5 separate regions of the Homo sapiens genome follow, and regions 1, 2, 4 and 5 are each reported to be linked to region 3. Evidence: microRNA targets listed by miRTarBase, many of them from high-throughput screens and not tested one by one. Region 3 holds a microRNA gene; each other region holds the end of a gene's coding sequence.

Region 1 (6,536 bases), not on the chromosome of region 3:
ATCTTTGAGAAGGTGAGTACAGATGGGTTCTTAGCACAAGGGGAGAGTTTGGCCTTAGAGTGGTGTACAAACAGTTAATCCATTGTAAGAAAAAGGAGGATAGATGACAATAACAGCTAACATCTATCTTGCATTTGCTATGTGTTCTAAGTACATTACTTTTAACTCCTTGAATACTCCAAAACAACACCATGAAGTAGATATCATTCTTATCCCCATATCACATCAAAGAAACTGAGGCATAGTGATTTTAAATAATTTGCCCAAAGTCACCCATCTTGTACATGGCAAACCAGCGTTTGCACAAAGGCTGTTTAGCTCAAGTTCAGTTACCTATACTGCCCTTTGAGAAGCAAGTAGATTTGTAGATTTTTATGATAAGTGCCAGTAGAAACTCTCATCTGGTTCCTCTTGTTTTCTTGGTGAAACAATGAGCATGATCATCAGGTGAGTGTAAGGAGGAGAAAAAGACAGTGTTGGAGTTAAGAGCAGGAGAGAAGTGAATGAGTTATTTAGGAGAATAAGAGGGAGTTTTGGCTAAGGAAGTGCAAAGGGATTTTCAAAGAGCATTAAGGATATAACTGAGGTTCATGACTAAGATTTTAAAGAGTAGCCAGCATGATGTGTGTTTTTCTCCAGCTACAGTCAACAACTATGGTACATGCACTAAAAAGTTGAAGAGTTGGACTGAACCGTGTTTGTGGTTTTGCCGGGCTAGATAGTGAATGGGGAGATAGGGGCAGGGGCAGTGAGTGTAGATGTCATGACTGATCACAGTATTTAAGTCATAACAAATGGCAAATGACAAGCTCAATGAGGAGAACATGAAGATATTTTCAGGTATGCCAAAAAATAAAAATAAAAATTCCAGTCAATGGAAAACAGCTTCTAGCAGGCTTTGAGCCATTAGACCAATATCTAAGACCAAATTTTTATTTTTTATTTTTTTTTGAGATGGAATCTCGCTCTGGCTGGAGTGCAGTGACGCGATCTCGGCTCACTGCAAGCTCCGCCTCCGGGGTTCACGCCATTCTCCTGCCTCAGCCACCCGAGTAGCTGGGACTACAGGCGCCCGCCACCACACCTGGCTAATTTTTTGTATTTTTTAGGGGAGACGGGGTTTTCACTGTGTTAGCCAGGATGGTCTCGTTCTCCTGACATCGTGATCCGCCTGCCTTGGCCTCCCAAAGTGCTGGGGTTACAGGTGTGAGCCACCGCACCCTGCCTCTAAGACCAAATTTTTAAAAATAAACCTAAAAACATTTTTAGATACTTTTCATCACTTCGTCTCTTCTTTTCTGATTCATTTTCAGTGAAAACATTCTTTGAAAGCATTAATATGAAAGTCTGTGTTGCATAACAAAATACTGCCTTATGAGTTAAAAAAGAGTTCTCATACACTGATAAGTTGGAGATGTTTCTAGAGTAGACACAATCCTTGAACAAGGAAGTCACTTTCAAAAATTCCTTATTAAAGCCTAAACTGGTTGGTTAATTGGAGGCTTCACAAGAAGGAGGGAACAACCTTGTCAACTTTGTGCTATCATATATGGCATTAATTTTTTTTTCAATCTTTAAAAAAATGCCATTTTAATTAGCACTACATTCACAAAAAGATCTTGGCTTATGCTTCATAGTGCACAAGACTATATCCCTATCTTATATCACAAACAGTTTCATATTTCAAACACATAATTTTTTATGTTTCTCAAGAACATATGGACATTTATTAATAGCTGTGGTCCCGCTAGTCAGTAATGGTATGCTCTTTCTCAAATTCTTGCTCAATGGACTCCTTCAAAATGGACTTCAACTTCCCCTACTTAAAAACAGGAAGAAATAATTAAATTAGTCTAAGTTGTTCTTTGTTTTATTTTGTTTTGTTTTGTTTTGTTCTGCTTAGCTGGGGAATGGGGGGAGCGTAAAATATCTCCTTAATCATTCATCTCTGGTTTCTTTTCCATACCACTTATGAGTAGTAAAAGCATTTTATTTGAGAAAATCTTTTACTTTTTAATAAAATGGTGACTAATTTTGTAATGCAAATAATGATACTTTTGTCAATTTAGCATTTTAATTTTCATGCATTGTGATTAGTGTTGTTGGTTTTATTTCTCAAGGCAGACCTCTAATTCTTTGTGTGAACTTCTCAATGTGCTGTTAACATCAGAAGGCCAGGATGGCGCAGTCTATTACTACCAAAAAGAAAAAAAAACACTTACTTTTAGCTGATCCGTCACACATACAGTCCATATGAAAGTGAAGATTCTAAGTTGTTAAGACTGAAGTAAAGGCTACTATTGCACCCCATAAAGAATCCACCTTTGGCTGAATAATAACTGCTTTACCTTATGCAACTTGCCCCACCTGCTCCTTACCTCCACACCAAGCCTGGAGATTGGCCACTCATGCTATCATATCCCTCCTTGTTCAACCAGGAAGCCTCAATCTTGAGAAATCTTCACGCTTCATTTCTTTCTCATGGACCCCTTAGTCTCACAAATTCTCTTCCTCCACCAATCTCCCATCCTCCTCCAAATTCCTGTCCACCCTTTCCTTCCAATCACTTTCCTCTTTCTTCCATATTGGGGTTATTACTCATTCAGTTCCATTTGTTTTCCCTCTGGAAGAAGCAAGGGACAGACTGTGATTCAACTCATGATGTCGGGGATAAATTAAATGCTTGTAAACATCTGACTTCTGAATTAACTATCTATAAGACAAGGAAATCATTATACAGCCTGCAATACCTTTGACCTCTTAGTAATATTAAACTTTGTTCTACTTTGGGTTGCACTATAAAAGGATGTCTTCTGTTATCCTACCAAGGCATATTCCTAGCCCAAGGAAAAGGATGAATATGTGTTCATTTCTTACTAGGACAGCTGCAGTAGCTTTCTAACCAGTCTGCCTGCATTCTGTGCTCTTCACCCCCACTCCAGCCCATTCTCTTCATCAAAGTTATGTAATCTTTTCAAAGTGCATATTAGATTATCTCACTCCCTTTGCTTGGAAAACTCCTGGGCCTCCCATTGCAGTTAGAATGAAAATTCAAGGTCTTTACCATGGCTTACCAAGCGGTACTTGACTTGGCCCCCATCTACCTCCTCCATCTTCTCCCCTACCATCTCTCATTTATCCATGGGGTTTCAATCACATTGGCCTTCTTTCTGCTGCACATATCCACCTCACTTTTCTCTCTCTCTCTGGATCTCATACTTGTTCCCTTTGGATATCTTTTCTTTCATATGTTTTCCATGTTTTGGCTTTTCATCCTTTAGGTACAGCTCAAATGGCTACCCCCTCAGAGATGTCATTCAGACTTCCCAATCTAAATTATAGCTTATCTGCTCCATCATTTTCTATCACATTACTTTTTATTTCCTTTATAACATTTATCGTAATCCAAAATTATCTTATTTATGTGTTTACTGCCTATCTTTATTCACTAAATGTGGTATCCTTGAAGGAAGACATTGTATCTATACCTGACATTTCCTGAAACACACTAGGGACTCAATAAATACATGTGGCTGGCCTGAAACAGAAGTGAGGAGAGAAAGACACCATCTTGTCACAGATGGTTATAGATTTGCTTGATGTCAATATGCATATCATTTGAGCCATACTTTATAATAAAGAATAAAAGAGTAGCTCCACAAACAAATGAAGAAATGAGTACTTTTTTAGTTTATTTTAATGCCTTTAAGTTTTTGGTGACTTTTACATTTGGAAAATTACATAAGGTAAATTATTTGTAGAGATTACAAAGTTAGCCATCCATATGATTGCACTTTTACTATAAGGAGATGCCACACAGTTCTCTGCCCTTGATGACCTCATATTATTTTTGCTGCAAGAGAAAGCAAACAAATGACAAAAGGTGAATATGAAGACAATGGAAAATGTTATATAAATAATTGCCACTCAAAAGTCATTCTTTAATTCCTGACAAATTTTGGATGTCAACTCAATGAGGACAAATTTGTGTAAGGATAAATTTGTCAACTTATCACAGATGATGGAGAGTGACTTTAACCAAATCATTTCTCTTCTCTGGTCTTCAGTTTCTTGATCTGTAAATTGAAAGACTCAGTGTAGCTGGAGCTCTGATACTCCTTCTTCACTGCAAGATTGCATGATTTTGTGAGGTACATGAATCATTTCACATATAAGTTAAAAAGTAATGTACACTTTCGCACTTATTCCAGTTAATAAAATGAAATTATAATTGATATAATAAAAAGTAACTCATTTGATAAATCCCCTATATATGTTCTCATAGTTTCAAAATTTATATTTTATTTTCTTTTGATTCTGGAAAACAAATTAAGGTCAATTCTGAATATAATGGTAAAATGAATCACAACTCAGCTATTAAGAAAAATTATATATTAGCCTTCTTTATTTTCTTCTCTCCTTTTTTTTTTTTTTTTTTTGAGACAGGGTCTCACTCTGTTGCCCAGGCTGGAGTGCAGTGGTGGCGCAATCACAAATCACCACAGCCTCAACCTGCTGGGCTCAAGCAATCCTCCCACCTCAGCCTCCTGAATAGCTGGGACTATAGGTGCACGCCACCATGCCTAGCTAATTTTTGTATTTTTTGAACACGGATTTAGCCATGTTTCCCAGGCTGCCCTCAAACTCCTGGGCTCAAGCAATCCGCCTATCTCGGCCTCTCAAAGTGCTAGGATTACAGGCATGAGCCACTACACCTGGCCTCTTCCTATCTCTTACATTAATTTAAAAGATTAATAAATGCATGGACAGTGTTTTAGATATAATAAAATATTAATAAAGACATTTATATTTTTATATATAATAAAATGATTAGTTTACCAACAATCAAAATAAAAAGATCCCAAAGCCACAGATAAGGATAGCCTACAGTGGTCTTTATGTTCCTTTGTATAATTCCTTTTTTTTCAGAGTCCAGTCTTGGATGTAATCCAATTGCGATAAGAAGTCACTCGAGTATAGACACCTGGCTTATTCTTTTTACCACATCCATCACCCCAGCTTACTATTCCAACAAGATGCCAGATATTTCTGGAATCAGGGTAAGCTAGTGGTCCACCAGAATCATTCTAGAAGAAGAAAAGAAAAAAATGTTTCTTGTCTTAACAAAAAATTTCCTTTTACCTCTCCTGTGGAGTTATCTGTACCTCCTGGGCACTGAAACCAATTCACTCTCTTTGGGCTTAGAACTCTGAAACCCTTAGGACTTTTTTTTAAAACACAAGACAGCTACAAACCAGAATATATGGCCTAAAACTGCCAAATGTTGACTTGAGCAAACCAGAGTTTGACTTATATAATGAGTGCAGCTTGAATATGGAGAAGGTGACTTAGCTGCTTGCACTGAGCTTAAGTCTCTATGATGAAGCCTCTGAGGAACAAGTGGCATAGGCATGTGCCCAGACTCCTGATGCATCTCTGGATAAAGAGAAGACAACATTCTAGGTCTGCAGGTTGCCCAGAAAATAGGACAAAATTCATCTTGTAAACTTCTTCTAAGTGTTATTCTTTGTATGAATTCCCAGATTGAAAACTTCGTGAGGGCAGGATTGTGTTCACCTCCACGTCCCTAGCATGTAGGCTAGTGTCTGGTACATAAATGGAATTAATACATTTTTAGTGTATTGAAATACAAAGCTACTATGTCAGTATTATTAACACAAAAAAAATTTTATGTGGATAAAAACTTCCATTTGATTAACTGGGAGAAAACAACTGGATAATGTAACTAGACATACCTGACATGCATCAGCTTCTCCTGACATAAATCCAGCACATAACATTGTATCAGTCACAAAGCCAGAGTATGCATATGAGGCATTGCAAATTTTGTTGTCAATAATCTTCAAAAAGTCTTCTTGAAGTATCACTGGAAATGAACCTAAAAGCAATAAGTGCTGCATATTATGCAGATCTTAGACTTTGCTGGGACAAAGAATATCTACCTATAGCATAAAGCAGACTCTCTTGGTCACCAAGAGTCAGGCCAGTCCCAGGTTAGATTAGTCTCTTTCAGGTGTTTGTAATAGTTGGCTGCCTAACACATAATTTCAATTTTTCCAATTCCCATTCCCAGAGATATTTTAGGAAGTGAAGACAATTTGACATCATGCTTTTTGTCCCACCACTTGGTTTTCTTTTCAGTATATTTACTGATTGATTAATTGCATGAGGGGATGATTGATTGATTGATTGATTGATTGATTAAATAGTTATTCCCATGCAGCTATTATGATTTTACAAAAAAACTTACCATTCATATAAAGTGTTCCCCAACCTGTAACTACAACATTGTCATTTTCTGAGAGCTTCATTTTGGCTTCAGGAAGACAAATCTTACGAATGTACTCTGTAAAAGAAACTTCTTCAGCAAGCTGCACAAGGGCAATATCATCATGAAGCCCAGGACTGCTATAATTTTCATGAAAAATAATGTTTTGGACTTTCCGTGTCATATATGGTTTATTTACTACAATTCCAAAGTTGACAGTCCAATCTTTTGAATTATTTTTCCTAGA
Region 2 (6,536 bases), not on the chromosome of region 3:
AATTCAATGAACAAGTAAAAACTGGACAGACACACCCTTCAGAAATTAGAGGTGGAAAAGGATTACCTCATTCCATACCTGTCACATAGCAGGCCCCCTGCAGCTATTCAGCGAGAGGCAGCCCAGGGTCCAGGAGGGGGTGTGGGCTGGAGCTGCCAGGATGGTGCCAGTGGGCAGGCACGGGGGAAACCTGGCAGGGGAGCACTTAGGAGCCGAGGTTTCTCTTGGGCACTACCCTCCCTTCCCCTTTCATTCCCTTGTATTCTGCTTCCTTGAGAAACCTGGTCCGGATATAAAAGCACATACTTAAATTCAATTTCTTAAAAATGTCATCTCACCTGGAAAACAAACTTTACTTGAATCTAAAAATGAGTTACTACTACTACTAATAAAAAGATATTCCTCAGCTAATTCTTGATTTACATGCACATCTAAAAACATAGCATTCTGCATGGCATTTAATAAACTATCTCCCAGAAGCCTATAGCTGTGTTCCAGGGATTAAGATCATGAAAGCCAATGTGGCAGGAAGCTACTCTGAAGCATCTCTGTATTTGAAGAAATTCCGGAAAGGGAACAGACACCTCCAGAATACTCACTATTGAGTAGGAGATAATAAAGAGACAACACACCTCATTTTAACAGTAGCACAAAATGGTTCAATGCCTTTCCAGGTTTCCTCGTGGCAATCTCCATTGGCCACATGCTGTCATGTCCTTTACTGAAGGCAAGAATCCCTTCCCAGGAAGTCTATGCTGATTACAGCAGTTAACACTAGAAAATGTGTGTAGGTATTTTTTTCTTTTAAAGCAAGCAGTGTGGAGGGAGGATGAAATAATAAAGATTAAAGAATGCAGTTCTGCACATTTTATCAAAATCTACAGAGCTCCCCAACCTCAAAAATGAAAAATGGACCTTATTGTCTCAGTATCCTACAAAGGCCAAGAATATATATTGATAAATTTATTCTAACACATATTCTACTTTCTAGCATAAAGTCACCCACTAATTTAAATTTGAAAACCTAGATACTCTGATTACCTCATAATAAAAATCACTTGAGATGCACTGCCGTGGGTTTACACAGCCTTCAACTTTTCAAAGTATTTTTCGACCCGTCACCATGCTAGAAGGCACTGATGTCACAAATACCAGTCTACATTTGGTTCTGGAAAAAGATTTTCATGTACATATTTTGTCCAAATATTACTATTTGTTTCATGAAAGTCAGAGCTAAGACTTTAGTAGAGTGTAAATTTTAAGCCAATGAATAAACAGTTGGCAGGAAAAAATATTGAACTGACATGCAAAGCATTTGTTGCTCTGCCAGATACTAAAAATAAAAGCAACTTCTGCCAAAATGGAAAACTTGGATTCAGTTGGTTCTGGATTAGACTAGGTTTCACTAACTTCAAAATGAGATCTGACATAACATCGGCTTGCCTCCTCAAACTTTATCATCTCTTAAAAAATAATGTACAACTCTCATTTTGTTTAAACAACAACCTCATACAATATGTTTTATATTTAGCAAGACACACATTTCTTAAAAAGTAATGTCTTAACAAAAATTTGGACATTTTATAAATTATATCTTCATTTTTTGTGAATTAAATTCAAACTTGTCTTATTAAAGTTATTAATAAGCTAAAAGATAATATTTTAGACAAAAGGTATAAAGAAAATCAGAAGATTTTAATGTGAGTTCTAAGTTGTGACTTAAAAGTTCAGATAACATTTTATTCCTATCCTTAGCCTGCTGCTCCCTTATCTGTCATCCTAAAAAAATAAGTGTTTAAAATATGCAGTTTGAGATTTATGATCAGTTGCAGAAACCTGTTTACGTACTGATTTACAGTCTTGGCTGAGGTATTTAACTCTGTCATCAGAACTAATTATAGCAAACCTAAGATTATATATTCAATCTCTCCTTTCGGTGAAAGACATAGAATGTTCTGCTGAAAATCAGAAACATCCTGAGGGCTCCCAAACAAGAATGCACTGCCAACTTCCCTTTCTCAGAACCAGTGCTGTAAAGCTCAAAATTACTGTTCTTTAGTAAGATGTTTTAGCCTAAAGTACTTAAATAGTAAATCATAGTTACATTAATGCCATACCAACGGCCTGAAACATATTAATCTCAGTTAACAATAACTGACGTTTACATTACTGATCTAACTCAGGCATTCTGGTGGTAGTAAATGCACATATTGAAGTTTTAGGAACCAAAGTTATTACTGATCCAAAAAGAATCCTTATTTTGCTGTGACTAGAATGGAGTGGACAAATGACTACATCCTTTGAGCAGCATGCGTACTCAAGGAATAATGTTTCTAGGAGTAAAATACCTAATTCCTATTAGAAAGGATAAAATAAAACTGCTCTCAAATGACATGTCAGCAGGGCCAATCCAAGACAACCTGTCCCCACAAATCTTCCCTCCAACCCCTTCTTCTGCTACACATAACGTTTTAGAGCTTTCCACAACCCATGCCCAGAAAGGAGTGACGACTTGGGAGAAGTGGCTTCCTTTATTAGATGAGCCCCCGCTATACTTAATTCTGCTGAAATGCCTGCCTTCCGCGTAGTTAAAATGTTCCCATCTACATGAGAACCCCGAGGGGATGCTGAGGGGGCAACTGCGGGCACTGGAGCAGGCTGAAGAAGGGCTTCCTTGGCTGGACAGGATCCCAAGTCAGACCCTACAGGAGGCCACTCTGGCAAGGCTTCAGTATGGGAAGTGCAACATGCCTGCAGGGGTCACTAAATGCTCTAAGGAGTAGAAACAGAAAAAAAAAAAAAAATGAGACTGAAGTCAAAGGGAAATGCCCATATCGGGGCCCCAAGTGTGAGAATATCTATACCACTCGCCTGCTCAAAAATAACATTTTTAGGATTTCAGACAAAACCACTGGATTGTATAGTGAATATTTCCCCCATAATGGATTTTTAGAGGAAAGGTTTCTATACTAAAAGTCTGTATTTACCTAATTTAGCAGTTTGAAATGAATATTGTAGGTAAGTTTTACATGATCATATCTGTAAAATGGAACAAGGGATATTAAATCATAAAATAAGACTTTCCAACATTTGGTCTGGATACTGAATTAGTATGACACATAATATTCTAAAACTTTGCTTTCTCTATGCTGGCTTTTCTCAACTAAATGAAAGCAAGATATGATTTTTGGATGCTTAAATAGTAGCTAGGTATTCTCTTATTCCAGAACACAGAAAAAAAAAGCCATTAAATGTGCCACCATAAATAAAATTTTGTTACTATTTTAAGTCTAAAAATAACAGTAATATAATCATGATTCATTTTACATGTTTCTGAATTTATATTATCAACCCAGAGAAAGTTTATATCAGACAGGTAGGAAACCTCTGACAACGACAGAAGAGGTGAACTGACAAAAACCATGCTGAGTGGTTCTTTACCTCCGCTGGGCACTGAGCAGGGAGGTGCCGACACACCTGGTCTTGTTCACCTGCTTGTTTTATGATTTTCTGGAGCCCCTTTCCTGTCAGAACCAGGAAATGTACATCTAATGAAAACGATTTCCCATGTTACCAATCCTCTCTTTCTGCTCATTAATTCATTCAATCTTTTAAGGAGGAATGGGGAATGGGAGGAAAACCAAACAAATCAGTTCTTAGAAGGTTCAAAGTTATATTATCTTGAGTTATAATTGTCTGTTTAATACAATTACACCATTTTCTCTTCTAAGAACCATCTCATAATTTAAAGAATGACATGGCTGAGAAAAATACTTAGGAAGACATTTTTAGGCGTTGCTGAATTTAAATCATCTTCCAAATACTACATTCTGCTCCTTTCTTTATTGTAATAGTTTATCTGAAAGTACACAAAAATTAACAAATTGCTTTTACTATGCAACTCTGAAATATCAAGTCTGCCTCCAATTAAAAAAAAACAGTAACTACTTTTATAACATTAAGGTCAAGTCATTTGTAAAGATAATATCAACTGAGACTTTTTGGTACTTACGACTAATCCATTATAAACAACTGTCAGTCTTAAAAACACAGTTCCAGTAAACGTGTAGTTACACTGGGTACAGATAAGAAAATACAAGGGCAGCATGGTAGCTCATGTCTGTACTCCCAGAACTTTGGGAGGCAGAGGCAGGTGAATCATATGAGGCCAGGAGTTCAAGACCAGCCTGACCAACACAGCAAAACTCTGTCTCTACTAAAAATACAAAAAAAAAAAAAAAATTAGCCGGGTGTGGTGGCATTTGTCCATAATCCCAGCTACTCAGGAGGCTGAGGCATGAGAATCACTTGAACCCAGGAAGCAGTGGTTGCAGTGAGCCAAGATCGTGCTACTGCACTCTAGCCTGGGTGACAGAGCAAGCGAGGCTCTGTCTCAAAAAAAAAAAAAAAAAGAAAGAAAGTACGAGAAGCTCACTGGCTGTGCTAAACCAAATGAATGGAAAGCGCCAAAAGTGATTTTATACCAAGGGTCCATCCATACAAATAAACAAAATCCTATCCTCTTCTTTCTATATTTTTTTTCTTACATTTCTTATACAAATAACAGAATGCTTCATTTTATTCACTTCAATAGGACAAAGTCCTTAAAGAAAGACTGAAAAGAGCTGATAATCAAAATCCCAAATTTTATGCTTATTTTTGTTTTAGTGCTATCAATTTTCTGACATATTAACATAGGCAGGAAAACATTCTCAGTAAATTGAGCATTTGAGTCTACAAATGTCTTGAAGCACTCTGGCAAGTTACATGTATCCCATGTTGCTTTTGGTTTCCCATCTCTTCTTTGCTTCAAACCTAAAAGGAAGAACATACAAATCTCAATTTATTTCTTAAAAAAAAAAATACTTTGCTGAACATGTTTACTTAGAGACCAAAGCAAAACAAACAAAAATTTTTCACATACTCCAATGATTACAAAATAAACATTAAACAGGATGAAGAAATGCCTCTATATTTATAATCTGATAAACATTCAACGAAGAAAAAAATGTAAAATGAGTTAACAGTTATACACGAACTAGATCACAAAATATATTAGCAGAATTTCTATGAAGTCAGGAGATTTACTACCAAAAATCTTAAGTAAACTCACCCCCATGCAAGTTTCTTCTTTTTTCGGGCAGCCTGTGAATTTTCAACCTCCTTTTTGGCTTTTACAAAGTTGTGGCAGGCAACTGCTTTGGCAATTTTTACACCAAGCTAAGAATTACAAAGGAGAAAAAAAAAGTGAAAATAAATATTCCAGCTAATACAGTAATTACACTTATACAAATAATTGAGAACTTGTGGGTAAGAAAGCCATGTCTAGAAATTAGAAATTCTATGTTCATTCCTTCTCAAAGTATAATGAATACAAAGACAGGACCCATATCTCCCGTGACTCCCAATAGACCCTTTACCCTAGTTATACCAGTCTCCTGGATGGAAATCCTTCTCAAACTGAGGCCCCTCGAGGGTCCACAAAGGTAGTAATGAGGATCTTCAAGCTATTTCAGCATTGCAGTAGGCTGAACAGGAATTTACCCCTGATAAGGCTGCAGACACTGACAGAGACATCAAGTTTCTTTGCTCTGGGCTAGAATTACAGCAACTCAGTATGGTCACACCAGTTATCTCATGCTGATCAGAAGCTCTGATTGGCAGTCACAGATGTGATTAATAAAACATGGGAAAGCTAATTACTACTTCATAAATGCACTCTGTATGATCGGTAACAGCTTTTAATTCACTGAGAGAAAAAAGAATATCAGGGGTGCTAAGGTGAAAAGGCTGAGCACCAGGACCACAGTACTTAAGTGTCCCCTGTGCAGGGCCCTCTATGTGTGCCCCCCTTACACCCACCTGCCAGTCCTACAAGATCCATTCACCGTGAAATCCCCCCATCCCAGAAGTCTTCTTTAACTCAACCTAAAACAGTCCCTGTTTCTCCAGCCCTCCAGCTTTCAGTTTTACACTCTGCCCTGCACGGCGCTCTGGCTGCAGAGCTGTTCCCCAGCAAGCATCTCCAGGATAAGCATTGTGATGGTATCTTCTACTTTTAGTGTGCTCTTAGTTTTAAAATGCCCACCAATGCGGACAGCTCAAGAGTACCCATTAAGAACCCAGATTAAACAATAAAAACGAAGTACCTCTTTGGTGTTTCTTGCCTTTTCTATCCCTTGTACTCACCTGATGCATATTAGTAGACAGGCAGACTTGTAAAAAAGAAGAAATGACCTAGAAGCCACTCTAAAGTCAACAGGTTAAAGCCTAAGTTCTAGGGATCTGCTTGCCAATAGTAAGGCATGGCAGGAGGTTAAGAGCACACGTGTAAGGAAAGAAGCAAACTTAGGAGAGCAAGGTTTGGCACGCTTGACATGTCTTTCAGCTTAATCTTGGAGAACAGTTTCCTTTAGGATGAAATCGACAAGTAGTAATCAAGCACTGTCTGTAGTTTATAAATGAGGGCAAAAATAGATTTGATTTTTCAGTACAGTTAAGAACATATATATAAAGAACGTAGACAAATGGAAGGA
Region 3 (6,536 bases):
ATTTAACAGACTAATCATTTGACAACTATAATCTCACTGAACTTTGGAAAAATCCCTAACATCCAAAGATGACACACAGACAGTGTTAGATAATGTAACGGTGCACAGTACTACGTCTAGAAGGCCTACGTGTAAGGTTGGGCAGAATAATTTCTATCCTTGCTCACTTCTGAATGCTTTAATAATGTCTACTTTTATAAATGTTTTGTTGTAGTTAAAAATATTACTCTATAAAATTTCCAAGGCACATCAACTTCAGACGAATGCTTCAGGTGAGGGTTTCCATGTAAAACGTGCTGGAGGCTCATATTTTGAACATCTGCCCTCAGTAGATCCTACTGATACAAGCACACTGACATACATAGTGGCTCAACCCCAAACAGCTGATGAGGTAAAAACACAAAGCTCATTTGGGAGGCCGAGGTGCGTGGATCACCTGAGGTAAGGAGTTTGAGACCAGCCTGGCCAACAAGGTGAAATCGCATATCTACTAAAAATACAAATATTAGTCATGCATGGTGGCACACGCATGTAGTTCCAGCTACTCAGGAGGCTGAGGCAGGAGAATCGTGTGAACGTGGGAGGCGGAGGTTGCAGTGAGCCAAGATTGCGCCACTGCACTCCAGCCTGGGCGACAGAGCGAAACTCTTGTCTCAAAACAAAAAACGAAAAACAAAAAAACCCCATGAAGCCTAGTGTTCTCTCTCAACCCCAGCTCAAACAGATATTTTGAAAAGGAAACAGAAACTCCACACACTTCCCTGTTTGCCTATTTCCATGTTTACATTTCTCTAACAGCTAACACTATGTTTGGTTAGTTTAACTAAGTTATCCTGCTCACTTAAAATTCTATTTTTTTCTGGTTATATCTGACAATAGCTCAAAGGTTCTTAAAACCTAACATGTTTGGGGAAAAAAAAAGGTCACACTTAACTGCATTTCTTCTTGTCACAATGACACCCAAATTTAATAAATATTTTACGAAAAATACAGCAAAAGGGCAGCACTGACTAATAACGTGCACTCAGTACTGCCGGGCGTGCTCCTTCTTCACGTCTTCCTCCCTTTTACAGAGCTTTCCTTTTAAGTGTGAACTTTGAGTAGAAAGAGGCTGGATTAATGATAATTGGTGAGTCCACAGGACTCACACGACAGCCAAGAAATACCACACTTTGCAGGACTAATGAAATCTCCACTGTTACATCTTAATAACATCTTGAAAAATATACCGGGTAAATGTAATGAAGGAAAAAAGTACACTTAACCTACTTTGTAAAACTGAATTCTACATAAACATGTGCACTGTATATACCGTGTACAGGCATTTCAGGTGCGTGAACACACTTACCCGTCATGGTCGGTGACTCTCTTCGCTGCCCTCCATCGTCTTTCCCTTCATAAACCACCGTAACATCATAAATTGCATCTAAATAATTCTTCATGCAATCAAAAGCAACGTGAGTTGCCTTTATTCGTGGTGTTAGCACATGTTTTAATACTGCAAGGCCTAGAAGTCAATTCAGTGCCGTCATTAATTAGTTACAAAACACCTCCACAATATACTGTTTAACATCTAAATTATTTTTAAATTCCCTCAAACACACACAACAGAATCTATTAATTCCACAACCTCATATATTTAGGGCTCTAAGTTTAGAAAGCACTCTCACTTGCCTTTTTCTGTTTAAATCAATATTCATTTGCTATATATTGATCAAATATCTACATGTACAAGTCACCGTGTTGGAAGTTTATGGCCTAGCGGAAACGCTTCAATCTAGTAGACCCCGGCAAGGGTAAATATTAGTGCCCTCGCTTCTGGCCACTGAACAAAGGTGATAGCATCTTGCCCATGGTGACTCAAGATTTCCTAGAAATACAGTCACACAGCACATGGCCTCCTGTTTCTGGCTTCTTTCGCTCAGCATGGATCTGAGGTTCATCTGTGTGGCTGCAGGACTCAGTGCTTCATTCCTTTTTATGGCTGAATAGTTAGTATTCCACTGTGTGAACAGATCACATTTTGTTTACCTATTAATTGCTTCATGGACATTTGGGTTGCATCCATACTTTGGCTATTATGAATAATGCTGCTATGAACATTCATAGGAATTGCATATGAAGGCTGCAGGTGAACAAGCTTTTGTATGAACATACGATTTCAATCCTCTTGGGTATATCTGACATATTTTTAAAAGGTTCTTTAGCTGGGGGACTACTGCAATTATCCAGAACAAATCCCATTCATTAGGTTCCTACTAGGGTTAAGGATTTGTTCTTCTCTCCTTCCTATTACCTCCCTTTTCCTTGATTAAAATATTTACTGACAATTTAACAGAAAACAGTAGCTCTCAATAAGTGACATGAAAATAGACTATAAAAAACTAGTCTAGATTTTCTACTGGCCTCTCTGGAGGGAAAGTAGCTGAGTAAGGAAGAACAGCTATTACATGGTGGGACTGTCCCACACAAGAGGTTTTAAAATGCAGGGTGGTGTGGGAAAGACAAAGATTCCCACAAGCACGTATCTGACTTTAGTCCCCAGGGCAGGGGCAGTTAAATTGATTCACAAACTTGCAACAAAAATCTCAATCGCACACCAAGCTGGGAAGCATTTATTTGTCAGTTAAACTAGTTAACACTTCCTTCTTTGCTACTGGAGCTCATCCAACTTTATGAAGTCCAAAGTTTCAAAATATCACTCTGTGGTGTTCACTAAAACAACTAATTACTGGCATCCAAGTAAGTTAGTAAGGAAATAAAGACAGAAAGCTAGTATTTTTAAAACATAAAAGGAAATGAATTATCATGAATGTTTTAAAAAAATAGCTTTGTGACTAGGCTTCTGCTCCAGAACGCGTAGATAAAGCCACACCATAACTAGAAGGGGAATGGCCAAGAGGAAGACATGCAGAGCATGCCTGCGTGCACCCACCTGCCATGCAAAGATAAGTGGAAGAGCAGGAGGCAGGGAAACAAAGAGAACACGGAGCCGGGCGCGGTGGCACGTGTATGTCTGTAGTCCTAACTACTCAGGAGGACTGCTTTAGCCTGGAAGTTGGGGAGTGGGGGAGAGAAGGAAGAGAGGGAGGGAGAAGAATGCAGAAAGAAAAGAGAGAGAGGAGAGAAAGCAAGCAAGCAAGAGAGAACGAGTGAGGGAAGGAAGAAAGGGAGGGAGGGAAAGAAAAGAAGGAAGGGAGAGAGAGCGAAAGAAAGAAGGAAGAAAGAAGGGGGAGAGAGAACATGAGTTCAAATTGGGCATACTGAGGCTGAAGGAACAAAACATTCTAGAAGTAGTTGGAAATATGGTCTGTAAAATGGCAAGAATCAACCGAAGCTAAGCATGTGGAAACCATGGGAATGGATAACTGAAGTAATGGCAGTGGCTGAGAATAATAAAGGGCAGAAGATGAAAAGGCAAGAAATACAGACTCCGGAAACATCCACATTAAAAAAAAAAAGGTAAAAATAATAACAGGGAATACGACAACCCAGGAAATAAAAAAAGGGGGGAAACCAATGTAATACAAAAACAAAGGGAAGAGATGTTTAAAGGAAGAGGAGGTGATATTTATCTTCAACAAGAAAAATTATACTCCATTGTTTATTTCTACAATAAAGTTAAAATTATTTCCTGGTTATAAAGGTATAAATAATGTCAAAAGTTATGTGAAAGTTAACAAATATGACAACTGACACAAATGATACGATGCTTTGGAGGTCAGTGGTTAAGTGAGAAGTGGGATTCATTTCTGGAGAGTGGATGGAGTCAAACACAAGAAAGCAAGGGGCCCAGACTTCTCTTTGCACAGCTATAGACTTAGTTATTTCAGAATTGGAGTACATTTGCAAGCTGGGAGAAACCCCTGCAGAGAAGTAAGGCAGATGACTGAGGCAACGATGGAGACAGGGTAGACGGAATCAAGAGCTTAGAAACTGTTGACGTTGCCATGTCTAAGAAGAAAATTTTTCTCCAAAGTTTTCTTCTTAGACATGGCAGCTTCAGCAGTTTCTTCCAAAGAAATCCAAGTCAAGAGACTCCACATTAAGATTTTGAAATCAAAAGGGATATTGGGTGCACTCTTTCCAGAGAAATATAACTTTCTGAAAGCAAAAAATCCTTGAATGTGAAGAGAACAAAAATCCGTGAAAACCATGAGGTAGTCAAAAGGAGAAAAATAAAAGAACTGCTCCACACAGACTTGGCTCGGCTGAAATGAAATGGCCTGGCTTGGCTGCAGAAGGCAGTCAGCATTGATCTTACGATGTTCTCCACTGCTAAGGAAGGGAGAAAACAAACAGGGTTGCCAAGGGCTGAGGAAAGGCAGGGCAGGAACAGAACAGCCCAGCACTGGGATGGGCAGACCCCGGGGCTGGGGCAGACAAGAGCTGCAGAAGGCCCTGCAAGCTGCAGAAGGGCCAAGGAAAGAGAGATTAGAAATCAGCCAAAAACACAGGTTTAGAGCGAGTGAGGAGGAGGGAGAACCAGAGTCAGCTATATGGTGTGGGCGAGCCAGTGCCATTTCCAGATGAACTTCAAGGTGGTAAAAGCAGAGCACTGGACCCAGCACAGGACCTCGAACCAAGCACAGGATCCCAGACCAAGCACAGGACCCCGAACCAAGCACAGGACCCCGTACAGGAGAACAAGATCCCCCCAAGCCTCCACAAAGGACTGCAGCCCTGCCAACACCTTGATTTCAGCTGAGTAAGACCCATTTCAGACTTCTCAAATGTAAGAGAAGAAATCTGTGGTGTTTTAAGCCACCAAGTTTGTGGCCCTGCCTGAGAGCAGCCACAGGGAGCAAACACACCTTCTTAAGAGCGAGAGTGCCGTTACCACACAAAGCTGAGCACTAGCTTTCTTGTTTGCTATGCTTTCTCAGAAGTTGGCTTCAAAGTATTCATTTAATTTCTACTTCTTTGATTATGAGAAAGAATAAACATTTGTTCAAGTGTGTGGGTCATTTGTATCTCTTGAATTTCTTATTCATGCCCTTTTCCCATTTTTCTAGTTTATGTCTTTTCTAATTATGAAGCACTTTTGTAATATTAAGTATATTAATATCCTATATTATAAAATATTATTAGCTTGCCATTTGCCAACTAAATTTGTTCATATGATGTTTGAGACATAAAAATAATTTTTATTCAGTTAAGTCTACAAAGAAAAAAATTGCTTTGTAGCTTATTCCCTTTGTTCTCCTGTTTTGAAAGAACTCTCAAATCTCTACAATCGCCAGTGTTATTCACCCTATGAATAACATGGAAATTCTAGGTATCTGGTTTGCCATTATAGACACATCATTAAATTTCTGTTTTCTTTTAAGAGAGTTCAAAAAGCTTAAGTATGTCACCTTCGCTAGCAACTATGGTTTTAACCATGGCAATTAAAAAAAAAAAACCACCATAGGGGCTTACTTTAATGGGTCCAGGTGGCAGATTAAGATACATTTAATTCCACATCCCTTATAACCATTAGAAAGCCAAATACCTAAAACAAGTCTAAGGAAAATTAGTTAAAACAAAACCCTTCGAACAGCTGAGAAAAGTTTAAATATTACCACAGTGCCTGCACTTCTGCAGGACCCCATCTGAACAGCTTCTTCCTCCATGTCTAAGTTTCCTATAAGAGGTATGCAACTGCTATCAATTTGTTCTTTTTGTGAATAAAACTTAGGCAAAAAAACTGAATGATGGAGTTACCAAGACAAGAAATATGAGTGTATGCATGGAAGGATAAATTCTATCTTCAATATGCTGAGTTTGAGACATCCTTTTGGGCCAGTCAAGCGAAGCTCTCTAATGGACAATTGTACAAATGGGTCCAGAGTTAGGCAGAGAGACATGGAGGGGAGGAAGCTTTTGCGAGTCATCAGCAGTCAAGGAAACGATGGCTAAAGCCATGGATTTAGAGGAAGGCCACCATGAGAAACAAAAAGTGAAATTAATCAAACACCAAAACCTGACACTGGAAATAACACATGTAGCAGGGAGAAATGAAGCAGAAAGAGGCTGGAAAGGAGGCTAGGAAGTAATCGCCAGAGAGTTGGGAGGATAATGGAGAACAGCCCCACAGAAGTCTAGGGAGAGAATTTCAAATCAGACCAAAACAAATTGAGGGCAGAGTGAGTACTGGAAAAAGTGCTTACAACAAAGGTAGACTACAGATTCGAGAGTGGTTTTTGTTTTGTTCTGTTTAATAAATGTGAAAAGGGCAAAAGAGACAATGGCATTGCAAAAGAGCAACTGAAATGACAGAACGTCATGTCTATTAGACAGAGGAAGCAATGAAAGTCAAAAGAGAGCTGGCAGATGGGGAGACCAACTGAACCCTCCTATTCTGAAACACTCCTTACTTAATAGGACATGTGTTTAAAAACAAACTGGCATTTTTTAAAAGTACTGTTACAAATGATGTCATATACCTATGACATATCTGCTCTTGTAAGCACCTTGTAAAAACTCCCCCTTATTTTTAATTAAACTAAAATTAAATAAAATTAAAAATTAGTTTCATGCACTAGTCACATGTT
Region 4 (6,132 bases), not on the chromosome of region 3:
TATGTGGGTGGTCGCAACGGAGACCTGGAGGAGATCTTTCTGCACCCTGGGGAATCAGTGATCCAGGTTTCTGGGAAGTACAAGTGGTACCTGAAGAAGCTGGTATTTGTGACAGACAAGGGCCGCTATCTGTCTTTTGGGAAAGACAGTGGCACAAGTTTCAATGCCGTCCCCTTGCACCCCAACACCGTGCTCCGCTTCATCAGTGGCCGGTCTGGTTCTCTCATCGATGCCATTGGCCTGCACTGGGATGTTTACCCCAGTAGCTGCAGCAGATGCTGAGCCTCCTCTCCTTGGCAGGGGCACTGTGATGAGGAGTAAGAACTCCCTTATCACTAACCCCCATCCAAATGGCTCAATAAAAAAAATATGGTTAAGGCTAGTCTGTGTGGGGGCATCTGTGGCTGGGATATCTGCCTCCTGACTTAGCCGGGGACGTGCAAATCTCACTTCTGGCTGGCTTTGGACATCTGTCTGGAAGATGGGAAGATGAGGGAGAGGTATGTAAGAATCCTGGGCTTTGTGCTATAATTTATCAAGAGGAGATGAGATTCTGGCTTGCATCAACGCTCTTCAAGGACAGCTCCTTGGAACATTGATCCAAACTGGAGTCATGGGTCTGAGGGCAAGGCCTAGTTGTGGCTTACACCAAAACCCCAGATGTCCCACTCTCCAGCTCTCCTCACCCCTGGTCCTCCCCTTGAGAAAGTGGTGAACTCACTTGCTGTGTGTGGGTGGCCAGGACCATTAGCCTTTGTTCTTTCCCAGAACCCACCTGACTCCTGAAACTTAGCTGAAGTCTGTGCCCGAGGACCCTGCCCTGTTACCAGGCCCAGTTCCTCCTCACCTCTACCCATGAGCCCCGGTGTCCTGCTAAGCCCTCTCAGATCTGGGATTCCTCCTTCCTCAGGAAGCCACCACCTTCTCAGCAGTGGAAACCCTGCCCACACTATGCTCTTAGGCTTTAGCCATCAGAAGGTTACAGTGGACTGCGGGAGGCTGACACTAGGCTGAACTCATTAAGGAATGAATGGGAGGTGAGAAGACACAGGCAGCAAGAATCGAGTGTTTCAAGAAGTTTGGCTGTGGTTTGCCAGAAATAGGCAAGTCAGTTTTCGGGGGTGTAAGGAAAAAGGGTTTTGTGTCTTTTTAAAATCCTAGACAGGAGAGTCACAAGCATGTTCACATGATAAAGAGGAAGAAAGAGAAAGAGGCTGGAGATTCTGAAAAGAGATCACTGGTGAGGTCTCAAAAGAGATAGAAGAGGATGGTTATGTAGTTGGGGAAAGAAATTTTAAGAAGGGAAGAAAATTAAAATGAGTGAAGGTATACGTTAGTTTTGTAAAAGTTATCAATATCTGGCTGGGCACAGTGCTCACACCTGTAATCCCAGCACTTTGGGAGGCCAAGGCAGGCAGATCATTTGAGGTCAGGAGTTGGAGACAAGCCTCCAACATGGTAAAACCCTGTCTCTACTAAAAATACAAAAATTAGCCAGGTGTGGTGGCAGTCACCTGTAATCCCAGCTACTTGGGAGGCTGAGGCATGAGAATCACTTGAATGCTGGAGGCAGAGGTTACAATGAGTTGAGACAGCACAACTGCACCCCAGCCTGGATGACAGAGTGAGACTCCATCTAAAAAAAAAAGGAATGTTATCAGTATCAAAATGGAGTAACATATGTCACATCCTAACAAAATGGAACCAACCTGACACCTAAATTAAGCATTGCACCTGATAACACCATGGAGGACTGGGTGGAGAATCAGCAGACAATGGCAGGGAGAGGCAGTCTGTGGACCAAGTTCAGGTGAAAGGATCACCCATCATGTTGGGCATCAGATCAGGCAGGTTCACACACTACCTGAGGAAGCTGGTCTTTGTGACAGACAAGAGCTGCTCTGCCTCTTGGGAAACACAGGCACCAGTTTTAGTGCCATCTTCTTGCACCCAAATGCTGTCCTTTAACTCATCAGTTACAGTGCTGGATCCCTCATCACTGCCAATACGGGGCTAGCAATATGTCTGCCCCAGTGAATGCAGCCGCCACGGAGCCCCAGCCTCCTCTATGGCAGGGGCCCTGTGGTGGGGAATGAGGACTTCTCTATCATTAACCTCCATGCAGTTGGCTCAAGAAAAGGATATGGTAGTTGGGCAAGGGGGCTCACACCTGTAATCCCAGCACACTTGTAATCCCAGGAGGGTCGCTTGAGCCCAGGAGTTTAAGGCCAGCCCGGGCAACATAGCAACCTGTTTGTAGGCAAAATGAGGAGTTGAAGTTCCCCGTAGGATCTTCTAGGGCTCAACCAGCCTTCATGTGCAGTGGGACTGGCAAGAAATCTGTCATCCCTGTTACCACTTTGAAGGTCTCAGTGTGTATGCAGGTCCTGAAAAGTTCAAGTCCCACCTGAAACGCAACACAGCATCATGCTCTGATTCATCAGTGATTCCCTAATCAATGCCATTGGCTTGCATTGGGACTATCTATCCCAGCCTATCCAGTGACTTCAGCAGCTGCAGAGCCCCAGCCTCTTCTTTGGCAGGGGCACTGTGGTGAGGAGGAAGGATTCCCTTATCACAAATCTCCATCCAATTGGTTCTATAAACAGATATGGTGGCCCAACTGTTGCGGGAAGTCAGGGACCCCGAACGGAGGGACTGGCTGGAGCCACAGCTGAGGAACATAAATTGTGAAGATTTCATGGACATTTACCAGTTCCCAAAATTAATACTTTTATACTTTCTTATGCCTGTCTTTACTGCAATCACTAAACATAAATTGTGAAGATTTCATGAACATTTATCAGTTCCCAAATAATACTCTTATAATTTCTTATGCCTGTCTTTATTTTAATCTCAATCCTGTTATCTTCATAAGCTGAGAATGTACGTCACCTCAGGACCCTGTGATGATTGCATTAACTAACAAATTGATTGTAAAACATGTGTGTTTGAACAATATGAAATCTGATTGTAAATGTGCATTTGAACAATATGAAATCAGTGCACCTTAAAAAAGAACAGAATAACAGTGATTTTAGGGAACAAGTGCAGAGGTTACAATGAGTTGAGATAGTGCGACTGCACTCCAGCCTGGATGACAGAGCGAGATTTCATCTAAAAAAAAAAAAAAAAGAATGTTATCAGTATCAAAATGGAGTCACATATGTCATATCCTAACAAAATGGAACAAAAAGGGAAGATAACCATAAGGTCTGACTGCCTGCGGGGTCGGGCAAAAAGAGCCATATTTTTCTTCTTGCAGAGAGCCTATAAATGGACGTGCGAGTAGGAGAGATATCGCTAAATTCTTTTCCTAGCAAGGAATATTAAATATTAAGACCCTAGGAAAAGAATTGCATTCCTTGGAGGAGGTTTACAAATGGCCACTCTGGGAGTGTCTGTCTTATGCTGTTGAGATAAGGACTGAAATATGACCCGGTCTCCTGCAGTACCCTCAGGCTTACTAGGATTGGGAAATTCCAACCTGGTAAATTTTGGTCAGACCGGTTCTCTGCTCTCGAACCCTGTCTTCTGTTAAGATGTTTATCAAGACAATACATGCACAGCTGAACATAGGCCCTCATCAGTAATTCTAATTTTGCCCTTTGTCTTGTGATCTTTGCTTTGCCCTTTGCCTTGTGATCTTTACTGGCCTCAGAAGCATGTGATCTCTGTGACCTACTCCCTGTTCGTACACCCCCTCCCCTTTTGAAATCCTTAATAAAAACTTGCTGGTTTTGCGGCTCAGGTGGGGCATTATGGACCTACCGATATGTGATGTCACCCCCCACCAGCCCAGCTGTAAAATTCCTATCTTTGTACTCTTTCTTTTTATTTCTCAGACCGGCCAACACTTAGGGAAAATAGAAAGAACCTACGCTGAAATATTGGGGGCTGGTTCTTCTGATACCCAACACCATGGCTCACAGCTGTAATTCCAACACTTCCAGAGGCCAAGGCAGGAGGATCACTTGAACCTTGGAGTTTGAGGTTGCCATGAGCTATGATTGTACCAGTGCACTCCGACCTGGGTGACACAGTGAGACCTTGTCTCTAATAAGAAGAAAAAAATGCCATTTTAAAAGTGTACACTTTCATGGTTTTTAGTATATTCACTGTATTGTACAACCATTACCACTACCTCATTCCAGAACACTTCCACCACCCCCAAAAGAAAGCAGTTACATCTGTTCACTGTAGTGCCAATTACTCAACCCCTTGTCATCCCCTGGCAACCACCACTCAGGTGTACTTTCTATGTCTGTGGGTTTGCTATTGTAATTTGAAAGTTCACTGATGTTACTTTAATTTGGTTTCATTTTGAATACAGTAAATATGGATCAAAACCCATATATACGGAGCATCTTTAGAGGCCTCATTTTTGTTTTTTTTTTTTTTTTTGAGATGGAGTCTTGCACTGTTGCCCAGGCTGGAGTGCAGTGGCGTGATCTCGGCTCACTGCAACATCCACCTCCCAGATTCAAGCGATTCTCCTGCCCCAGCCTCCCCAGTAGCTGGGAATACAGGCGCCTGCCACCACACCCTGCTAATTTTTTTATTTTTAGTAGAGAGGGGTTTTCACTATGTTGGCCAGGCTGGTCTTGAACGCCTGACCTCGTGATGCACCTGCCTCGGCCTCCCAAAGTGCTGGGATTACAGGCGTGAGCCACCACGCCCAGGCTAGAGGCCTCATTTTTTAAGACTAATGGGATCCCAAGGCTAAACGTTTGAGAAACACTGATCTAAGATTTGTGTTTTGTTTTGTTTTGTTGTTCAATCAAGTGGAACATAATGTCTAAACCAGGGCCTTACCTACCTGGAACTCAAAGGTGGAATGACCTTCCCTGGCCAAGCTTCCAGAAGGGACAGGGAGCTACTTAACAGACTGCTGGACCCTTAACGACTGGAAACCGGAACCGTGGGTGACGGAACCGACCAGACGTGACAGCCCTTTGGCTGGGGCTGCAGTCCCACGATCCACACAACGACTCTGGCTCCGCAGACGCGCCAACCACCCACGGAGGCAAGAAACTGCCGAGAGTGAAGGGAAAGGGAGCCCAGTGCTGGGCGGCACTCAGCAGCTCCCCCAGCGGCCACTGTCGCCAACGTCTCCGCGTCGGGGTTTGTACCGCAGCTCGCGTCCAGTCGTCAATGGCTGCGAGGCCCATGCGCGCTCCAGCGTCCTGACCAGGGGAACGTTTTCCTTAGGGACCCGGAGGCGAGCGCTGGAGGGAGGGATGGTTGCTAACGCAACTCTCTGCAGGGCAGACCCACCAGCACCCGCACGCAAACTACGGGCTGGAGCAGTCTAACAGAAACTCTCTCAAAGTCGCTCACGGGTTGCCATTCTAGGTAAGATTTGTGAATAAAACTAATTCTTTAAAAGCCTGAGTTTTTCTTTAGTTGACAGTTTTAATTAACATACTCTTTTCTTTCCTCTTCTGCAGACCCAGCCTCACCATTCCAATGAAGACATCAATTAACCCATGCACAGCCGCTACAAACGGGGAGCTCATTGCCTGCAGGGAAGGACCCTCTACAGAGAGCTACCTGGGGGCTGGGAAGCAGGACCCCAGGCTGAGTCCTGCCTTTTGGTAGTGCCCCGCCCCGGCCAATGCGGCTGTTATATCAAAGTACATAAAAGTGAAGGCAAAGGGTGTCCACGTGGGATAGACTGGCATAGCTTCCTGGCCACCCATGGTGCTCCATTATCTCTTCGAGGACCCCTTCTCCACGAGACCCTCCAGGTCTGGTCCTCTATCGTCCAGCCCCCATTCTCTTCTCCATCACTGCTGCTGTGTCCCAGATGACCTTAATTTAATCTTCACATATTTGAAGGACAGAATCATCGGCCTCACCCACTAATTATTATTATTATTATTTTATTTTATTATTATTATTTTTTGAGACGGAGTCTCGTTCTGTCACCCAGGCTGGAGTGCATCACTGCAAGCTCCGCCTCCCAGGTTCACGCCATTCTCCTGTCTCAGCCTCCCGAGTAGCTGGGACTACAGGCGTCCGCCACCACGCCTGGCTAATTTGTTGTATTTTTAGTAGAGACGGGGTTTCACCGTGTTAGCCAGGATGGTCTCGATCTCCTGACCTCGTGATCTGCCCGCCTCGGCCTCC
Region 5 (6,536 bases), not on the chromosome of region 3:
CGGGTGTTTGGATCAAATTCCACTAACTTGAATGAATTACCTTGGAAAATTATCTCTACAAATTCTTACTTACATTTCTGACTGTCAGGTTAAAGTGAATAATTATTTTCTGTATACCAAGATATGATTTTGAAGCATCTATGTTTTGCCCTATTCTTTTGAGAGGGAAACTAGCTCTGTTTCATGTGCTGGTTTTCCATGTCTGATACTTGATGTTTCTGTTTCTGTGATGTAATTTATGCAAGATAGATAAGATAGATGTTGAAAAGGGAAGAAATAATGAAGCTGTGGGGGAAATCAGACATTTATTAGAACATTTCCAGTTTTTTTGTGGAGGGAGGGCTTTGGTGTATATAGATTTCTCAGAATAGCAATGATACTTATATTTCAAAATAGCTTATAAAACCAAGCATGAATCTTTTTTATGCTTTGTTGTTTTATCTATCACATTGTTCTCATTTATTCAGTTGACTATCATAGATGAACAGATATGGGAAAGAGGGCTTAAAAAATTCATTTGGCTTGAGATCTCATTTGTATATTATGGTTTGGTATTTACAAACTAAAGGTTCTCAGCCAAATAACGTGTTTTGCTTGGAAACCAAGGTATTTTTAAGGAAATTGTATCTGAATACCTTCAGGTGCCCGTTGTTTTATACCCAGCTGTTAAGAAATTACACTCTGCCTGGCTCTTACAAGCGTTTGAGTTTTCAGTTGTTTAGCCTGTAAGATCATCAGGATTTTATCAACAGGATATTTAGTCTCTGTTGCTAACTCTGCTGTATTTTACCAGGTAAAGGTTCTAAATAATTAATAATAAAATGTTTCCAGAAAATTTATTTTTAGTTTAGATGTAGTTCAGCTCATCAAACCTTTTAGGAATCAGCAACAGCAAGAAAGAATATAGTGTGGAGTCATTTGAAACTGTAGCATCTAGAATTTTTACCCTGTACTGCTTTAGAGTAAGCAGAAAGATGAGTGTAATACAGGAAATAAAGAGAATAGCAGAAATATCTTCAAATTATTATTTCTTCCTTCTTTCTCTTAAGCTAATAGAGTTTTAAAATGAGTCAAATACATATTTTAATTGATAAACTGAGTTTATATTCACCTATTGGAAACAGTACAACATATTTTACATCAGGTTATGAAATATGGATGTTTTACTAAAAGACAGGAAGAGCTTTTTCCAGTCTTTAAAGTAAATACATATTCAAAGAATCTTAAGGCATACCATTTATTCATATTCATATCTATTGAAATACTGTACATCCACATACTTCAATAAATAGTTAAAAACCTGACCTCTTTTTAAATCATTTCTGGATTTCAAAAAACAATTTTTATTGAAAAGATTAAATAGGTAACTTTTGGCTGTGTCACAAAGCTAAGCACAATGGATAAATTAACAATTGTTCAGTAAATTTGATCATTATAGATGATTGACTTTGATAATTCAGTTTTTCAGAGTTTTCTGACTTCAAATGTAGGGGTATTTATATATATATATATTTTTTTTTTTCCCTGAATTACCTGGGTAATTTTCTCAGTTCTCCAGTCTACTTTCTAGATATAGCTTAAATGTTATGATGAAGCATTAATTTTTCAGTTAAGTTATAAACCCCCCAAAAGTGGCTTTAAGTTTGAAATTCTCCCTCTCAAATCTTTTAGTGTCTCAAAAACACCCACATTACTATAACTTGGGCAGTACTTTTTATTATATAATTGCTGCATAATAGGAACTTAATGGTATAATAGGACTTATGTTTCAAATGCGATCATTGAAAAACGTAGTTACACCACTTGCAGTTAAACTAAGAATGCAAATGTGTAAGTTAACTACCCTAATACTCTGATTCTTCCTTCCCTCTCATCCTTTCTTTCTTCCTACCTTCTCCCCTTCCTCCCTTCCTTCCTTCATTCCTTCCATCCTTCCTTTTTTTCCCTCTTTACTGCCTTTCCTTTTCATTCTTTTTCTTTTCTCTCCATTCTCATTTTTAAACTGCTACTTATTTTTCTTTCTTCCTTCTTTAAAAAAAAATAGGGGCAACAAAAGGAGTCCCACAAGTGGAACTTGTAGAAAATATAATCCTGAAATGAACAGCTAACACAAATTGTTATAGATTAAAAGATAAATCAATTTATAAAACTGCTATTCTGAAATTGCAACAATCTTGTACAGTCAGGACTGATAAAATGGGGTAATCAGACATTTTATATGTCCATAAATGTAAAATCATCTACTTGAACATTATATGCAATACATTCACACAAAAAAGCAAATACTGTAGCCTTATTTGACAATATTGAACTCATAAATACTCATGATTTCACTCTGTCCGAGGGCCTAAGGACTAGGAATGCTGCTGTGATACAGAAAAACATAGTGAATACCTCCTCTATTTAAAAATGTCACTCAAGAAAGTCTCTTCTAACATAAAGGCAAATACATATAGCTACTGAGCTATGACTGTACTTCTGTCACATTCTATGGTAAAAACACCAGACTCCACAAATTTGGAATCATGACAACACTTTGAACTAATTATTTGGTTCATCCATAGTTTATACCTCAATTTACCTACAAACCTTACAAAGAGGAGGTATTTTAACTCTAGGAAAGCGGTCACTGAATAATATGCATTCTTGATCTGTTTCTTTCTCCCAAACAATGGTACTGATGGTTAACATTTTTTGTGGTAGCACCACTATTTCTAGTAAGTAGATTATTATGGAGTGTGCCACTTTAAAGCTGCAATACAAAATAATATTTTATAGTTTATTCAACAATTCCACAAAGAATATTTCTTAAAAGCAAATAAATAATAAAGTTAAATGCCATATTTGTTCTAAAAACTCTTTTTTAATGTATCAATCAAAATAATGTCATACATTTATTACAGTTAGTAGATTTACTAGCTTTATGCCTTATTATTGCCATTTTGTGGAAAGAGTATACTTATGTCCCCTCATTTAAGATTCATTTTTCTAATTAAAATTGATTTATGATGTACTTTGGGACTAAGTTTTACTTGAAGAAAAAAAATCACAGTTTTTAAGCCATCCCTGCTAGGGCAACATACTAGATATCTCAAATATGTATAACCACTGCAAAATTTCTTGTATCTAATTTTATTATAGGGTCTTTGTTGTTACAACTTGTAAAAGGGGACTATTTGTAGAAATTTAGGTGTACTGAAATTGGTAACTTCATCAAACCTGTAAAATGGCTTTCAAGGTGATGGCCTTTCTTTAGTAAAGAGTGAAACCATCAAACTATTCCTGTAAATTAATGTTAGAGTAACAGCATTTTCCTTCAAAAATGTAGTTTTGCTTCTTTATAGTAGAAATAATTTAACATTCACAATAATTTGATAATTACTTATCTTAAGATATTCTCATCACTGGTGTTTTGTCTTTATTTGATCGCATCTTACATATATCATGTAAGGAAAAATAAAGGATGGTCTTTTTTGATTTTACTTGTTTGCACTGAAATGGCTATATAGAAAGATTTTATTGAAGAATTAGCTATTTTAGAGATTGGTCTGCTACATACCGATATAGAATGTTTGTTATAATATATTTTGGAAGTTTTAAAATATATAACATGCATTCCAGACTATCAACTGAGTGATACTTTCAGATGGAAAATATGCAAAATGCTCCTGTCCACAGGAGCACTGCCTCTGTCATACTAACTTAGCTGCCACAAAATAAAATTAATGATGAGCGCTTACCAACTCTTGTAATATTAGGTGATAGGACTTTGTGCCCTTTCTGACAAATCATCTTAAAATTTTTGGCTTGGACTAGTGAAAGGAAAAGATGCTGTATTGCTAGGCAATCCTTTGAGTGGACTGTGCTGTCATTTTAAAGGGAATGATTTCCCACGGTGGATCTAACATTTAGCTACAACTAAAGAAATCATATGGTATATTTACTATACTGTTATTAAATTGTCTCTCATCACAAGAACTGAGTTAGTGTGGGGCAAAATTCTCAAACCCCATTGTCAGTGCAGGAAGAGATTTTTACAGTCCAATAGCTCCTTCGTTACTTAGAGATAGTGTATGGTTTAACTTGATCACTCTGGTTTATTTTTACTTTCAAATTGTAAGATTTAGCAAAACATTTTATATTAGTTGGAGACAAAGAGAAAAATATTATTGTATGAAGGCACACCCATGCTGAACTTACAGGAAAGAGAAGCAGAGCTGCACAGCCAGTTATATTACAAGGCTCATTCCTGAAACCTGAATATCATGCGAGCAGAAAAATCTAGATATGTGTTATATTTTGAAGAAATAATCTGAAGGCAATATTATTTGCTTTTTTATCAAAAAAGAAAAAAATGCATCTTTGTAAATGTGGATTGACTCTTATTGAAACAGGGAACTGAATGCTTGTATTGCAGCCTTAAAGAATCACATATTCACTGCAATATTCGTTTTTGTAAACTACAGCCTGCAACCTAGCAGACCATGACTGAATGCTTTTGAAAAGTTGTAGATTACAAACATGAAATCACAATTAATATCCTCTAAAAGTAATTTCAGAGCTTTCACGTCTTAAAAAAAGGACAATGTGTACTGCTTCACAAGGTAATGTAGCTAATCAAAAAAGAGTAGAATTAAAGTATTTACATAATGAGCAATTCTACAGAAGGCGATCATCCCCATGTAAGCACTGCTGATTATATCCCACGCTGCTTTTAACAAACTGTACCAGATTGGATCCAGCCATCAGCACTTTCAGAGAATCCTTAAAAGCCTTTTATGGGTCTTTGAATTTATTGTAGAATGGCATTCTTCAGGTAGAATATGCTGGTGAAAGAGGACAGTGTCAACACAAGGTACCAGCAGGAGAAAAGAACATCAGCGCTCCCGGTAATTCCATACTGGGCTGTACTTGGAGCTGGAAAGAAATGGAAAAGATTAAATCAAAATCTAATTTGTGTCTTCCAGGATCTTGACAATAATCAAAAGGTAGCCAGGTGCATCGGGGAAAGCACTGACATTGGAGTCAGACAGACTGAAGTTCATATCTGATTCTGCTATATGACAACGTGTGGGCTATGTGGCTAACTTCTCAGAGCTTCAGTTTTCTCAAGGGCAAAATGAAAATAATAGAAATAATAGAATCCACCTCACAGGGCTGTGGTGAGAATTGGAGATGAAGCACATACAGCATATTACATCAACTAAACACATGCTAAGTACTCAACAGCTACTAACATTATTATTCCTCTTATATGTACTGTAAATATTTGTATTAATGGACAAATAGTCATTCATGTGTATATATAGCTGTGTTTTATTAGCTAAATACTGTACTAAATGCTAGGAAAACAAGAATATTGTCCCTTCCAAGGCCTTTTTTTGGTGAGAAAAGATCTTCAAACAATTATAATACAGAATATTAGAGTTGCATGTGCATACCCAGTAACACAGACAAATTGTGCTTTTAAATTGCCTGGGTAAGGGAGATTTCAAATACAGTTTTACTAAAGGAGACTATCATGTGGGTAGAAGAAATAACATATTCGAAGGCATAATAAAAGGACAGAGCAAGGTGTGTCGTATAGAATATAAAGGTAGATTTAGTCTTGCTGGACCATGAAGTTTGAGGCCCGAAGTGGAGGGAATTGAAACTAGACCTCTAGACAGGTAGAATGACCTCTACTGTAATGAAAAAGGGACTAGGTTTTTATATTGAAAGACATTTTGAAGAATTTGGAGAGTTGAATGTATGACTACATTTATACATCAGAAATATTACAGTCTTATATATGGGGAAGTTCACATGGTACTTGGCTAACAGTCATGTTGAATTTTCACTGAATACCTGAAAATTCACCAAGTTTGGGATATTATTGGAGTGTTTGGAATGGGTTTCACTTTGTTTATGAACAGACAGTTGCCTAGTTGTAGTGAATTATATTGTGTTCCAGAAATTAAATGTTACAGCCGTGCTTGGACTTGTTTGAGACTGATTCTCATTTACCATAATAATAATAATAATTGTAATAACAAAAAACCTGCCAATATATTTTAACCACCTTTTCTTAATGAAACCTGGATTTCAAGCACTATTTCCTAGTAGAAATTGAATAATGTAGTAAAGAAATCGACTACTTCATTTCTAAATTTATAACTCAAATCCAGGAGCAGGTTTAGTCACACTGAGTCTGAATTGCCAGCAGATAGTTTTAATGAAATGTTCACAAATGACTATATTGCTACGTAACAAGAATAATAAATTCTGCTGTTTACACTTCCAAGAAATTAAAGGGGATGAAAGATACATTGGTCCCTGCAGTGGGAAGTTTCCTTGACAATGCAATTATTGATTCCAGGTGAGTGGGATTTGAACACTGAGACTACTATTTTTTAATAAACAAAGAGCAAAATTAACTATTTAATGCATGTGTATAATTACAAATGAGTTTTTTAAAAAATAAAAAGACAAAGAAAGTAAGTCTATTGTTGAACAGAGAGCTTTTCAATTTCTGATGTATATGAAGTCTAATTTAA

The links. Region 3 holds the annotated microRNA hsa-miR-4659a-3p (UUUCUUCUUAGACAUGGCAACG, at 3,944-3,965, opposite strand). A microRNA usually pairs through its seed, bases 2 to 8, with sites in the 3' UTR of a target mRNA and lowers its output. Matches are read on the target gene's strand: a 7mer-m8 pairs with bases 2 to 8, a 7mer-A1 pairs with bases 2 to 7 and ends in A, and an 8mer does both.
Region 1: miRTarBase lists TMPRSS11B as a target of hsa-miR-4659a-3p. Seed matches in the 3' UTR shown: 8mer at 4,409-4,416.
Region 2: miRTarBase lists FAM204A as a target of hsa-miR-4659a-3p. Seed matches in the 3' UTR shown: 7mer-m8 at 2,450-2,456.
Region 4: the mRNA of ZG16 is a reported target of hsa-miR-4659a-3p. Seed matches in the 3' UTR shown: 7mer-A1 at 1,198-1,204 and 7mer-A1 at 1,304-1,310.
Region 5: the mRNA of NEGR1 is a reported target of hsa-miR-4659a-3p. Seed matches in the 3' UTR shown: 7mer-A1 at 2,019-2,025, 7mer-A1 at 1,881-1,887 and 7mer-A1 at 1,028-1,034.

What each region holds. Positions count from the first base shown.
Region 1 is chr4:68,222,986-68,229,521 of GRCh38, forward strand. TMPRSS11B (transmembrane serine protease 11B) reads right to left here. Exons shown (of 10, transcript NM_182502.3): 8 at 6,272-6,531; 9 at 5,757-5,899; 10 at 3,668-5,087. The coding sequence ends at 4,926. Among named protein-coding and RNA genes, the nearest start is that of TMPRSS11B, 19 kb to the right of the region's middle.
Region 2 is chr10:118,306,094-118,312,629 of GRCh38, forward strand. FAM204A (family with sequence similarity 204 member A) reads right to left here. Exons shown (of 9, transcript NM_022063.3): 8 at 5,114-5,220; 9 at 1-4,815. The coding sequence ends at 4,764. Among named protein-coding and RNA genes, the nearest start is that of FAM204A, 33 kb to the right of the region's middle.
Region 3 is chr8:6,742,641-6,749,176 of GRCh38, reverse strand. MIR4659A (microRNA 4659a) reads right to left here and starts at 4,013; the gene lies at 3,933-4,013. AGPAT5 (1-acylglycerol-3-phosphate O-acyltransferase 5) reads right to left here. Exons shown (of 8, transcript NM_018361.5): 6 at 1,349-1,507. MIR4659B (microRNA 4659b) reads left to right here and starts at 3,937; the gene lies at 3,937-4,009. RefSeq lists enhancers at 703-852, 1,775-2,069, 2,671-2,720, 4,333-4,412, 4,443-4,722 and a silencer at 2,861-2,910.
Region 4 is chr16:29,780,138-29,786,269 of GRCh38, forward strand. It overlaps ZG16 (zymogen granule protein 16), which reads left to right. Exons shown (of 4, transcript NM_152338.4): 4 at 1-2,836. The coding sequence ends at 282. It overlaps LOC124903675 (a long non-coding RNA gene), which reads right to left and starts at 5,196. Exons shown (of 2, transcript XR_007065048.1): 1 at 4,820-5,196; 2 at 2,830-3,117. RefSeq lists a silencer at 4,149-4,288 and an enhancer at 5,145-5,234.
Region 5 is chr1:71,402,654-71,409,189 of GRCh38, forward strand. It overlaps NEGR1 (neuronal growth regulator 1), which reads right to left. Exons shown (of 7, transcript NM_173808.3): 7 at 1-4,917. The coding sequence ends at 4,793. Among named protein-coding and RNA genes, the nearest start is that of ZRANB2-DT, 320 kb to the left of the region's middle.